Linked DNA regions of Homo sapiens. The protein of the gene in region 2 interacts with the protein of the main gene of each other region in a biochemical or structural test. Each region holds a gene or a part of one and is shown on either strand. Other genes may lie near its edges. The genes, in order: ASS1 and PRMT7.

The links.
Region 1: the proteins of PRMT7 (region 2) and ASS1 form a complex in vitro, tested with the Homo sapiens proteins (one study listed by IntAct).

Annotation. Positions count from the first base shown.
Region 1 is NC_000009.12:130,496,680-130,501,774, forward strand, and holds the end of ASS1 (argininosuccinate synthase), read left to right. Parts: intron 1-2,825; coding exon 2,826-2,891; intron 2,892-4,296; coding exon 4,297-4,342; 3' UTR 4,343-4,595; downstream 4,596-5,095. UniProt on the Homo sapiens protein: One of the enzymes of the urea cycle, the metabolic pathway transforming neurotoxic amonia produced by protein catabolism into inocuous urea in the liver of ureotelic animals.
Region 2 is NC_000016.10:68,341,959-68,349,239, reverse strand, and holds part of PRMT7 (protein arginine N-methyltransferase 7), read right to left. Parts: intron 3,566-7,281; coding exon 3,438-3,565; intron 3,096-3,437; coding exon 2,960-3,095; intron 2,030-2,959; coding exon 1,946-2,029; intron 1,610-1,945; coding exon 1,562-1,609; intron 899-1,561; coding exon 809-898; intron 1-808. UniProt on the Homo sapiens protein: Arginine methyltransferase that can both catalyze the formation of omega-N monomethylarginine (MMA) and symmetrical dimethylarginine (sDMA), with a preference for the formation of MMA.

The DNA.
Region 1 (5,095 bases), on a different chromosome or scaffold from region 2:
GAGCCCCTGGAGGGGCAGGAGGGCCCTGGTGAGCCAGGGCAAAGGTGGCAGGTAACGATTGGCCACTCCTGTGTCCGCCCCGTGGATGAGAGTGACCTGCACCAAGGGACGAGGTGTCACCTCCAGAGGTCACCTGGCCAAACTAGAGATGGGGCAGGCCCCTGTGGGACAGACAGCCCCCACTAGACGTGGGTCCCCTAAGGCCCAGCTTAGCTCAGGCTAAGGCCAGCCCCTCCCTCCTGGAGGCTGGTTGGGAATTAAAGTACGAGTCTTGTTTGGCAGTCAATATTATTTTTTTCTTTCCCTTCTCCTTGCCATGTTGAGTTTCTCCCCGCTTCAATCTTTCTAAACACTTTATAAGCCATAAATACAACTGAGTCAGTTTAGATCAGTTGGGGTAAATGTCAAATTATCTTCTCTCTTTCTCTCTCTGGCTCTTTCTTCCCTCCCCCTCCAAATCAACAGCCTCTAATAATCTGTCCAACCCTTCATTAAGCCTTACAGTCTCACTCAGGGAGATTAAATGAATAAAGTAAAAAGGGAAAGGGGAAAAAAGAGAGAAAAGCAGGAGCATTTATTCTCACTGTGTCTCCGACCATTTCCCTTTTCTTTTTGATTTCTACATCGCTGACTTGAAAGCCCTTGAGTGACAGCGTCACAGGGACCAGCGAGGAAGCCGTGAGAGGTAGCAGAGCTGGAAATGCCGTGGCTCAGTAGGTAGAAAGTAACGTAATTATAGAGCAGGTCAGAGCCACTCGAATGAGCAAAAATAAAAGCACAGAGGTTTTCTGTAGACCGTCAGGGGAGGTAAAAAAAAAAAAAGAAAAAAATCATTGTAAACTCTTTTTCCACCTCCCCGCTCACTTCAAACCACAATTTTAAAAAGAGGTTTTTTAGTTCCTGAGAAACCCCTCTTGGAACTCCCAGCAGCCTCGTGGGACAAGTTTGTCCCTGGATGTGGGCCCTCTTTGCAGGGGCTGCCAGGGCAGCTGGGAAGTTCCCACCTTGGGGAACGGGATGGGGAGAGTTTGTTGTGACTTGTGAGAGATGGAGGTGAAGGGACAGATGGACACAGAGGTGGGGGGATTCTGTGTCCTACGTTCTCCCTGGGCTGAGTATAGGGGCCAGTGGGGCTGAGGCTCGGTTTCTAAAACAAGGTCTGTTGAAGGGATCTGAGGAGGTTGGTGGTCTAGTTTGGTCTAGCTCTTCCTAAGCACTGACTGCACAGAAAGGGGTGGCCAGCAAAAGTCTGGTATCTCCTCCTCTTCCAGGGAATGCAAGCTCCTAGTGGCTTCAGTGCCTGAGCCCTGGAGGGGCCGTGGAGGTGTGGAGGAGGGAGGAAGGGACATCAAGGAGGTACAGGAGCATGGGAGTGACTCTGCAGAGAGTTCCACGCACCCACCGGCTTCAAGGCCTGGTGAAGGTCAGGGCCCGGGTCCTGAACAAATCACTGGGGCCAGGCAGATGCAGAGACCTCATTTGTTCTTGTAAAAAGTCCACTGTCTACAAAGAACCAGTCAGAGGGCCAGCCTCAGGGTCTCAAAGCAGCAGATCCTCCTGCCTCCCAACACCGACCCCCGCTACCCCTACCTCGAGAACCTTGAGTCAGCTTTGTCCCAAGGCTGGAATTCTGCAGACAAGGGTCTGATTCAGAGCAGGACATGACAAGGGACCCCATCCTCTCAGAGGCTCAGAGGCTGGCCTTGTGGAGTAGGAGGCATCTGAGTCCACGTGCCCTAAGTGCTTAGCACAACCATAATTAATGAAGGCAATGGGTGATTGATTGCTTCGGTCTGGCCCCTCCCTGTGGACACCACTCTTGCTCTTCCTTCCTTGGCACCTGGCCCAGCATCTGGCAGGCAGCAAGGGCTTAATAAATGCCTGAACAAATGAATGAGTGAATGAATACTGTTAGTACTAGTGGGTGCTCACCATGTGCCAGGCACCAGCTACATTATTTCATGTGGGGCCAAATGTGACACTGAGAGCTAACCACCATCACGCATTTCACAAGTGCAAGGCTGAGGCTCCGAGTGCAGGAATACTGGCCTGGGCTCTCTGGTGGCGGGTGGCGGAAACAGGACGCAAACCCCAGTCAGCTGGCTGGAGTGACTGCCATGGTTAGGAAGGTTGGGAGGAGCAGCTAAGGGTGGAGAGCCCCAAAGCAGAAGGCTGGTGAGTCTGAGAGGTGGAAACTGTAGAGAGGTAAAATCTGCTCTGCTGAGTACAGCAGCAGTCAACCCAGCATTTTCCATGACACACTGGCAGTGGGTGCCCAGGTTTCAGGATGGATTAGGTAAGGTCTAACTGGTTGGACACATGAGGGGAAAGGTGACTTGGTGGGCCCATCTCGCTGTGAATGCTGGAGGCCTCCCTGCAGCTTGCGAAATGCCCTTGTGCTATTGCAATTCACACCCCAAGGCCTCCTGAGCCTTCAGGTCACTGCATGCCATCCACACAGTCCCAAGGGCACAGCTGGCTTGGACGAGTTACCCATTTACAGACAGAGTGCTCTGGTTGGTGGAATTCATAGGGCTAGTTCTGGGGTGGCTGCTCCTAGCCTCCTGCCACATTGTGTAGCAGGGAAGAGGCTGCTGTGTGCTCCACTAGGGCTCTCCAACCTTTGGGTGGGTGCCTGGCCCAGAACAGGGTTCCCTGAGTTGTACAGAAATTCAATGGAAAGCCGACGTGCAGGGAGGGTTTGGACCCACACAGGGGAAATGCCCTGGCATCTGGGAGGTGGGGCTGCTTCTGGCCCCAGCAGTCCTCCCTTCAAGCAGAGGCCAGGGCCAGGCTGAGCTGACAAGCTTCTACTCTCCTTGCAGCATGAACGTGCAGGGTGATTATGAGCCAACTGATGCCACCGGGTTCATCAACATCAATTCCCTCAGGTGAGAAGCTCAGGGCCCTGACGGGCCTTCAGAGCCTCCAGGTGTAAAGGGTAGGCTTTGAGAGCCCCCAGGTGTAAAGGGTAGGCTTTGATGCGACCTTGACTGCTGCCCTGCCCTGCCCTGCCCTGCCCTAGACAAACCCCACTTTCCTGTCCATCTGCCCATAGCATCCTCAGAAGCATGCTTTGATAGCCGACAGTAACAGAGGGTCCTAGGCATTGGGGTCCTAGGTTCCTGTGTCCCACCGGGTGCCTCTGATACTTGCCCTCCCCTCCCGCTAAGCCACAGGGACTCCACTATGAGCTCCTTTGCAGGGCAGGTTAAACAAGGAAATAGCATAGAGGTGGAGAGAAGCCTTTGTTTTCTGTCACCATACCTGAGCTGTAGGTCTAGCTGGAAGCCATCCTAGCCACGTGGATCTCCATGGCCCAGGAGGGTGGTGCACGTCATCTGAAGTCACTCAGACCTTTGATCCTCTGTGAGTCACCAGTAAGAGTGTCAGCTGTACCTGCCTCACAGATGCAGTGAAGGTTCAATATGAGCCTGTGGAAATCAAGCATGCGGCTCAGGCTTAGACCCTGGCATGCAGGAAGAGCCAGGGGCAGTGCCAGCAGCAAGCACACTCAGCCCAGGGCCGGTGTGCTCAAGGGCAAACAGGGTCGTTTGTCACCAGCAGCTAACATAGACTAAGCTGCTCTGGGACACTCTCCTAGGATGTCTCATTTAATTCTTACACAAAATTTGCAACTCCCCGGGAACAGGCTGAGTGGTTAAGTAACTTTCCAAGGGTCACACAGCTAGGAGGTGGTGGAGCTGAGTCCGGAGGGCCTGTCCTGCTGTGGGTTCTCCATCACCAGCTCCCTTCTCATGGGGATTGGAGTCTAGAAGAAGATGCAAGTCAGTCTCCTCTTGCTAACAACATGCCCTGGGCACAGAGCCATCATTTTCTCCCAGAGCCAGTCTCTTGTCCCTGGAGGCACCTCATGCCCCGAGAGATGTTGAAGCCCGCCCATCTGCCCAGGGTCCTCTCCCTTCCCCTCCGTCACCTCCACCTCCCCTGCCTCCTGCGCCCTCTGTTTGTATTTTATGACTCTATAAACCCTTTTAAATGGCCCAGAACAAACAGGGCTTACATAGTGGCCTCTTCATTTCTCCTATTGCCAGTTAAACGCTTTGTCTTCAACAATGACAAACAATGTTTTCCCCCTAAGATAAATTAATTACATTATCCTGATTGGAGGGCAGGAGGGGCCAGGGCGGGAGAGGGAATAGAAAAAAAGGCAACTTCACACACATCTTAACAAACAGCTGCCCCAGCCACCCCAGCTCTGCCTGAATTAATTGAACCCAGTGTGTGTTGTTATTGTTAATTTACATTTTTCTTTGTTTTGAATCTGGTTTACAGGCTGAAGGAATATCATCGTCTCCAGAGCAAGGTCACTGCCAAATAGACCCGTGTACAATGAGGAGCTGGGGCCTCCTCAATTTGCAGATCCCCCAAGTACAGGCGCTAATTGTTGTGATAATTTGTAATTGTGACTTGTTCTCCCCGGCTGGCAGCGTAGTGGGGCTGCCAGGCCCCAGCTTTGTTCCCTGGTCCCCCTGAAGCCTGCAAACGTTGTCATCGAAGGGAAGGGTGGGGGGCAGCTGCGGTGGGGAGCTATAAAAATGACAATTAAAAGAGACACTAGTCTTTTATTTCTAGTGAGTGTGTGTGTGTGTGTGTGTGTGTGTGTGTGTGTGTGTGTGTGTGTAGTTAATTATGGTTTTCTTAGGCCAACCTTTGTGTTTTCGGACCTAAGTGCTGCCGAAGGCCGCCATTTGCCAGACAGCCTGTTAATCTGGCAGTCGACCCCTCTCCAGCAAAAACTAGGAATCCAGAAGTGCCGCCTGGGTCCGATCCTAGCCAGCATCCTGGGAATCTGTCACCAACTGTGGTCCTGTGGCAAATGTCAGGAAACCAAATAAAATTCAGGGAATGCCCTTTGGGGGCATCAACGCACAGCCCTTTCTCTGGACATCACTTTTACTCACAGCCCACAGGGAGCTTCTATAGAGGGTGGCCATGAGTGACCCTAGGACACTTACCACAGCTGCATGGCCTAAAGCAGCCTAAATCATGAAGGAGGAGGGAGAGGCCTGAGCAGAGAGGAGAAAAGAGCAAGCCCGGAACTTGGCAGCATTTCTCATTGTCCACAAACCAG
Region 2 (7,281 bases):
AAGGAGCAGCCAGGAAGGTGAGGGGAAAGCGACCTCCCCAGCACAGGCAGAAGTCCCGGGTCACAAGGACAAGCGGGTAGAGCAGATGAAGCCTGCAGGGAGACCGTGGGAGTAACGACGAGGTTGCTGGCAGAAGCAGTTTCAGGGCCCGGAAGCCTGACTGCAGCAGGAAGCCGTGGACGGGGAATGAAGACAGGAGTGCGGTGGAGAGGAAAGGACATGCTCTGCTCCTAGGAACCCCAAGAGAGCTGCTCTGTCCTGACCTGAAGGAGCAGAGATGAGGCTGAGCTAAGAGCAGTACAGCCAGGTGTGGTGGCTCATGCCTGTAACCCCGACACTTTGGGAGGCTGAGACTGGCAGATCGCATGAGCCCAGGAGTTCAAGACCAGCCTGGGCCACATGATGAAACGCTGACTCTACAAAAAATACAAAAATTAGCCAGGCATAATGGCACATGCCTACAGTCCCAGCTACTCGGGAGAGGTGGGAGGATCGCTTGAGGCTGGAAGGTCGAGGCTGCAGTAAGCCAAGATCGTGCCACTGCACTCCAGCCTGGACGACAGCGCGAGACCCCATTTTCAAAAAAAAAAAAAAAAAAAAAAAAAAAAGAGCAGTGCAACCATCTGCTCACCGGGCAGCTCCATGAAAGCTTCACCACACCCTTGATGGTGGGAGCTCGTAGGAGGTAAGGTTGCATGTGGAGGACCCACTGTGAGACTCCAGGGACAGGGTGGGGCCTGGGCTACTTCAGTGCCGTGCTGACCACCCTAACACAGCCCAGCGTGGCCAAAAGGCTCCCGCTACTCACCTTTCTGCCCTGTAGGTCCTCATTTGTTAATAATTCCGGCCGTTTCTCTATGATGTTAATTTTATCTTCCAAGTGGTTAGCCTTGAAGATCTTAGAAAGAAAACCGTAAAATTACTGTATTCATACTAAAGTATTGTGTTTGTCAGGAAAAAAAAATCTCTCAAAGTTGCATTCTCCGCTTTGAATTTTCCGGCAAATGGTTCTGGAACACCACTTTTATCTGCTTTGTGGAAAAATCCTCTCCTTGGGGGGCATCCTATAGACCACGGATGAGATCAGGAGCACAATGTGATAAAAGCAAAAGAAATTTCTCCCGCATGTGCACACCAGGACTCAGTGCGAGCCTGCAGTTCTGGTGAAGGGAGTTCCCCTTTGGAGAGGAAATCAAACCAGTTACTGGCCAGGGAGAGAAATGCCATCTCCCATCAGGCTGTGAGCACTGGCTCCCTCAGCACTGATGTCCCAGAAACACATCCTACATTTAATTCTACCGCAACAGTAGCTTATGTGAAGTGAGGAAAAAAGCCTAAACTTCTTCAGACACAAAAAAACAAAGCAGAGTGCAAATGCCTGCCTCTATTTCAGTGACAGCTCCCAAGGCCTCTGGCTGCTCTCCAGGCAGCAACCAAGACAACACAGGGGTGCAAGCGAGCCACCACTCCTTTGTTCCCCTGGGGCCAATGCCACTTCAAAGCCATCAACCCAGACCCCACAGGTCCTCTCACTATTTCAGCAACAACAATTCTCACTTACTTTTCTCAACAGTTTGTGAGAAGCTGCTGAACTCTCGACTGTAAACACCTAGAGGGAACACCACGCTATTAGTTGTAAGATATTCACTTAACAGAGAAGAAATTAAAGATTAAAATGCGACAAGACCATCCTAAGACAGAGGACACACCTGAACAACCCTCCCTGCCCTCATTCCCTCCCTGGGGCAGCCTGAACACCAGCTCTGAGGCCTGACGCCTGCCTGCACGCACAGGCAATAAACCCCCCAGCCCCTGACCCGAGCATGCTGTGCCCACAACAGTGGCCTTTGCAAAGAGCCTTGATCACAGAATTGTGCACCCGGACCACGCAATGCTCTAACTCACAAGCCCACATCAGGAGGCTGACAAGGGTGCATGTCAGTACCTGCTCCACCCCCAGGTGATGGGCCAGCACGGAGAGCAGGCTGCCATCGCTGACACACAGGCACACGCTGTCTGGCTTCAGCACCTGCGGGGAACAGGCAAGCTCAGCACAGGGCTTCCTCCAGTTTGCCAGAAGATTCCTGCTGGCAAGCTGTCAGAAATACTTCCCTTCTCACTCCACTTGCCCAGACCTCAGACCATCCCCCTGCGTCCTCATGCAGTAACCACCCCCAGCCACAAACATGCCCGCCTTGCTCACATCTCCCCACCTGTCCCCAGTGTCAGGAAAGACACCCCTCAACCCAGCCTAGAGGCCCCGCTGAAGGCCTGCACCACCTGCAGGCCACCTTCCAGTCCATGACAACAGGCTTCTTCCCTGTCTGGTTAGAGCACAGACAGCTGAGAGCCTCCAAGGCTTGAGTGTTCACAATTGACTGCCCAAAGGCAAGGATGCCTTTCTGGGTGACAGACCCCTCTGAGAGAAACTCAGGATGGCTTGGATCCTCCCCCCATCCCCCAAAATGCACACATTCACACCTATTTCTGTACACACCCCCAAGGGCCTCAAGAGACCCTCCCTCTAAGCCCCATCTGTAATCCCCAAGCCGAGTCCCCTGCTACAGGTAGCAGGGAGCAAAGGTTTTCAGGCAGGAGAGCGACATGATCAGATTTACATCTTAGAAAATTTTAGAAAGGTGACAACACATGAAAAGAGGGGGTGGCCTAATCCACCGTGACCACCCACAGCAATGACTGTGTCTGACAAGGCAAAGGTGTCCAGCAGGAGCCCAGCCAGAGGCTCTCCCAGTAGAGCAGAGAGCAAGCCCTCAGGAAGTCCAGCCCCAGGCTCTCCCGCTTTCTGCTCCAGTGCCCACCCAGGAGGCGCTCGCTGAAGCCACTCATAGACAAGAGGACACAGGAAAGAAACAGCAAATCATAAGCAAAGTGCTGGGGTTCATGGGACAAACTTCTTTCTCCCTTTTCCCCACAACAAGCCAAGGGGCTGGACACTTACGGTCCTCAGAGCCTGGACGTATCGATCAGTTCTGTCCTGGTCATTGATCTCTCCAAACCGAGGCCGGTTCCAGAGCAGGTGAGCCTGGCAGTCACACACGGGGCGCATCTGGCGGACTCTCTCATTCTTTTCAGGGCTAGGCCAGGAGATGAACAAACAGACGTGGGCTGTGAGCGCCTCCACAGGTCTCCAGAGGGCATGAATCTGGACACTGGTCTCCAGTAGGCATGAGGGCTTAGAGCACCCGCTAATTCCAGACTTTTCCTACGCATCTGCTCTAAACAGATTCCAGCAACCCATGACAGCCTCTCCTGGGTACACACGAATGGGCACTGACACACTGGTCACAAATCTTTGTTCTTATGTTATTCTGTCCAGACACAAATCAACCCACTGGCACCTCCAGAGGATCTGTAAATGGGGAATTTACATACAAGTCTCAGAGGCTCATCCTCCACCCCCACGAGGCTCGACGTACCTGGTCCTCTGCAGGCTGTACCATACGCAGTAGTCATCGTGGTGGGCTACCAGATAGAGCGCTGAGCCCTGCACCACAGGCTCCTCTTGTGGCAGGAAGTACACACACTGCATCCAGTGGTCCCGCCACTGAAACGGAGAACAGAGTCAGCTGTCAACGAGCTGCAGTATGAGCAATGCTTCTAATCCAGGAGCCAAATGCCAGAGAACTGCCAGTTTTCAGGACGTCCACAATGTAGACTACAGCTGGCTATTGTGGCCAAGGAGATAAATAAACTCTAAACTCAGAGGCCAGTGGCCCAAAAGTTTGCGGGAACCCTGCTGGCTTTAGGAAGACACAATGTGGCCAAGAGCAGCAATCTGCCAGAGTGGCTCAGGGGAGGGGACAAGTGCAGGCTCCAGTCCCCACCCCATCAGAGTAGCACCAAAGCTCTCTCTTCAACACGTAGAGCTGTGCTGAATGTTTCCTTTGAAGGAAAAAAATTGGTTTAAACCTAGTGGTTTAAGGGGAACCTTTTCAGAACAGTCCATGGCACGCATTCCAAAGGCTTTAACGTACTCGGAATTTACAAAACAGTCAGACTCAATGCACTAAACCTAACTGGATCGTAGACTGAGGAAACAAAAGCTATCAAGGACTTCTGGAGACAAATTTTATTTTGAACCATATGTTAGACGATACTATGGAACCACTGTTTTTCTTAGGTGTGATCATGTGTTTCATTTATGTTGCAGACTGTTTTCATTCTTGGGAGATAAGTGTTGAAGTATTTAAAAGTAAAGTGTCAGATGTCTGCAACTTACTTTCAAATGATTTAGCAATAAAAAAAAAAAATGTGCATGCCCGTGTGTGTGTGTGTGTGTGTGTGTAGAGATGCAGGAAGGGAGGCAGAAAGACAAAGATAAAGCAGATGTGGCAAACGTTAACAACTGGTAAATTTAAATTAATAAAGCGACCATCAGTGTTCATTTTCACTTATTCTGTGGATATATAATTTTTCAAAATAAAAAGGTGGGAAAATACAAAAAGGTTTTGGCTTATTCTTTGAATTAAATTGAAGTATTTAAATAACTGAATATTCTAAATTGTGAAACATGGTTGACAATGATCCACGGTCAATTTTTAATAAGCTGTGCTAGTCCTTACTACAAACCCCACATACAGGTTTCTATCCTAAGAAAACCCCAAAAGAAAAAAAAAAGTTATATTCACATAAAAATGCAAATCACAGAATTATTTATACCAGCAAAAACTGGAACCCACCCAAATGGCCAGCACTCAGAACGGGATATAAACCCTCGTGCAGAATACGGACAGACATCTTAAACGCTGCTGCTGAAGGCCACGGGGCCCGGAACAGAGATGAGCACCGATGACACCCACGCGTTTGGAGAGAGACCAAACAAAGGGAGCTATTTTGAGTGAAAGGGAGGACCATGAGTGATATTTTTATTTTATATAATGAGGTTTATTTCGCTCATAATTGTTAAGCCTCTTTTTGAAAAAGGAAGAACTGCCCTAAAAAGTAGATGCCAGCTGGACACGGTGGCTCATGCCTGTAATCCCAACAATTTGGGAGGCCGAGGCTGGCAAATCGTTTGAGGCCAGGTGTACGGGACCAGCCTGGGTAACATACCAGTGACACCCATTTCTACAAAAAACACAAGATTAGCCATGCATAGTGGCAAGTGCCTGTAGTCCCAGCTACTCAGGAGGCTGAGGTGGGAGGATCGCTTGTGCCCAGGAGTTCACAGTTGCAGTGAGCTAAGAGGTGCCACCACAATCCAACCTGAGCAATAAAGCAAGACCCTGTCTCTAACAAACAAAAACAGGAGATGCCTGGCTCAACTCTGATGAGACGACTGCCTGCTCATTCTGTCACCTTCAGGAACTAAGAAAAACTTGGCCCTGTGGGACTCCAAGAGCACAGGTAAGGAATGTGCCCACCCACCTGGTCTTTAATTTAACAAAAAGGCAGGAGAATGACATTCCCACACGCTTAAGACGCTTACTTGAACATAAAAACTAGAAAATGAAAATCTGACCAGATATGTTCTGGAAAAATAAATAGTAACAGGAATAACACAGGTTCTTTTAAACCTTTTATTCATTCCCACACTATGCAAATGCATGTGAAGAAGACAGGAGAACCCTTTCCCGACCCCTCCTAGGCTCCCATGGCACTGCCCTGTCATCATGTCCTTCCCATACTACCTACCACAGGGACCTCCTGGGTCCTAACGTTGAGGAGCTGGTGACAGAACCCACTGTGCCAAGGTGGGACAGACTAAATATACTTAGGATCAAAGCAGTTACATGAATTCATGAGGGAGATTCATTAGCAGCTTTCAAATTTCCAATCCAAAAGTCAACGCTGGTAGAGAAACAACACAAGACCCACAGTCAAGAGACCAGGGGCAGGACCCACTCTACTGCTCCTGGACACAAGGCCCCGCTCCAATCCCTGGAGCCTGCTGAGTCCCGGGTTGGCTATGGTTGTGGTTACCTTGTTTGTCTACTAAGAGGATTCAAGGAGAAAAAATACATAGTAGCGCTCCGAAGATATGCAAATTAAAAGTACTAACTTTTTTTTTTTTTGAGACGGAGTTTCGCTCTTGTTGCCCAGGCTGGAGGGCAATGGTGCAGTCTCAGCTTACTGCAACCTCCACCTCCCAGGTTGAAGTGATTCTCCTGCCTCAGCCCTGTAGCTGGGATTACAGGCGCCTGCCACCATGCCCGGCTAATTTTCTTTGTATTTTTAGTAGAGACAGGGTTTCAACATGTTAGCCAGGCTGGTCTTGAACTCCTGACCTCAGGTGATCCACCTGCCTTGGCCTCCCAAGTGCTGGGATTATAGGAGTGAGCCACCGGCCAAAAGTACTAACATTTTAATGCTATTCTTATGCTAATTCTGCAACACAGTCTTAGGAAGAATGTGACGCGGTGCCAATCTCAACTCTGTGGGTGAATTCAGAGTGACACACACACAGCCTGCAGAGGGATGCTGGCAGGCCCTGGCTGGACACACACACACCCGGGGCCAGGCACCTGGAAGGTGGAGGGGAGACTAGGAAGCTCACATACTTCTTAGTCTCACATGCTGCTGTCGGTATGGGTACGCTGATTGACAGCAATTCCCCAGCAGTCACAACCCTTCGGCCTAAACAGTAACTCTGGGAATGGGGTAGGTGAAGCTGCTAAGGCCTTCCATAATGTTGTGGACACCTAGAACCAGCAGGTGAGCATTCAACACAAAGCCAGGGGTTAAGGCCAGGCAGGCTGGACCATGGACAAAGGATGGTGCCTGAGGCGCTCCTGGGTAGAGACAGGTTCTATTTCTTGGTCCTGAAACCAAAACTGCCTTTGCGAAAAAGTGAGAAAATTATGACAGTGAAAGAGATCTCATCTAACCAACCCCCATTTTGCTTTAATGTCCAAACTGCCCTTAATCATTCCTGGGTCCGGGCCAAGCTAACTTTGGGAGACATTTGGTTAACAGTTTATTTTTTGTTCTTATTATTTTTTGAGACAGAGTCTCGCTCTGCCACCCAGGTTTGAGTGCAGTGGTGTGACCTCAGCTCACTTCAATTTCCACCTCCTGGGTTCAAGCAATTCTCCTGCCTCAGCCTCCCGAGTAGCTGGAATTACAGGCACGCACCACCACATCCGGGTAATTTTTGTATTTTTAGTAGAAGTGGGGTTTCTCCATGTTGGCCAGGCTGGTCTCGAACTCCTGACCTCAAATGATCCACCCACCTGGGGCTCCCAAAGTGTTGGGATTACAGGCGTGAGCCACCACACCCAGCTGGTTAATACTTTAAATGATAACCGTCCTTCCCCAAAA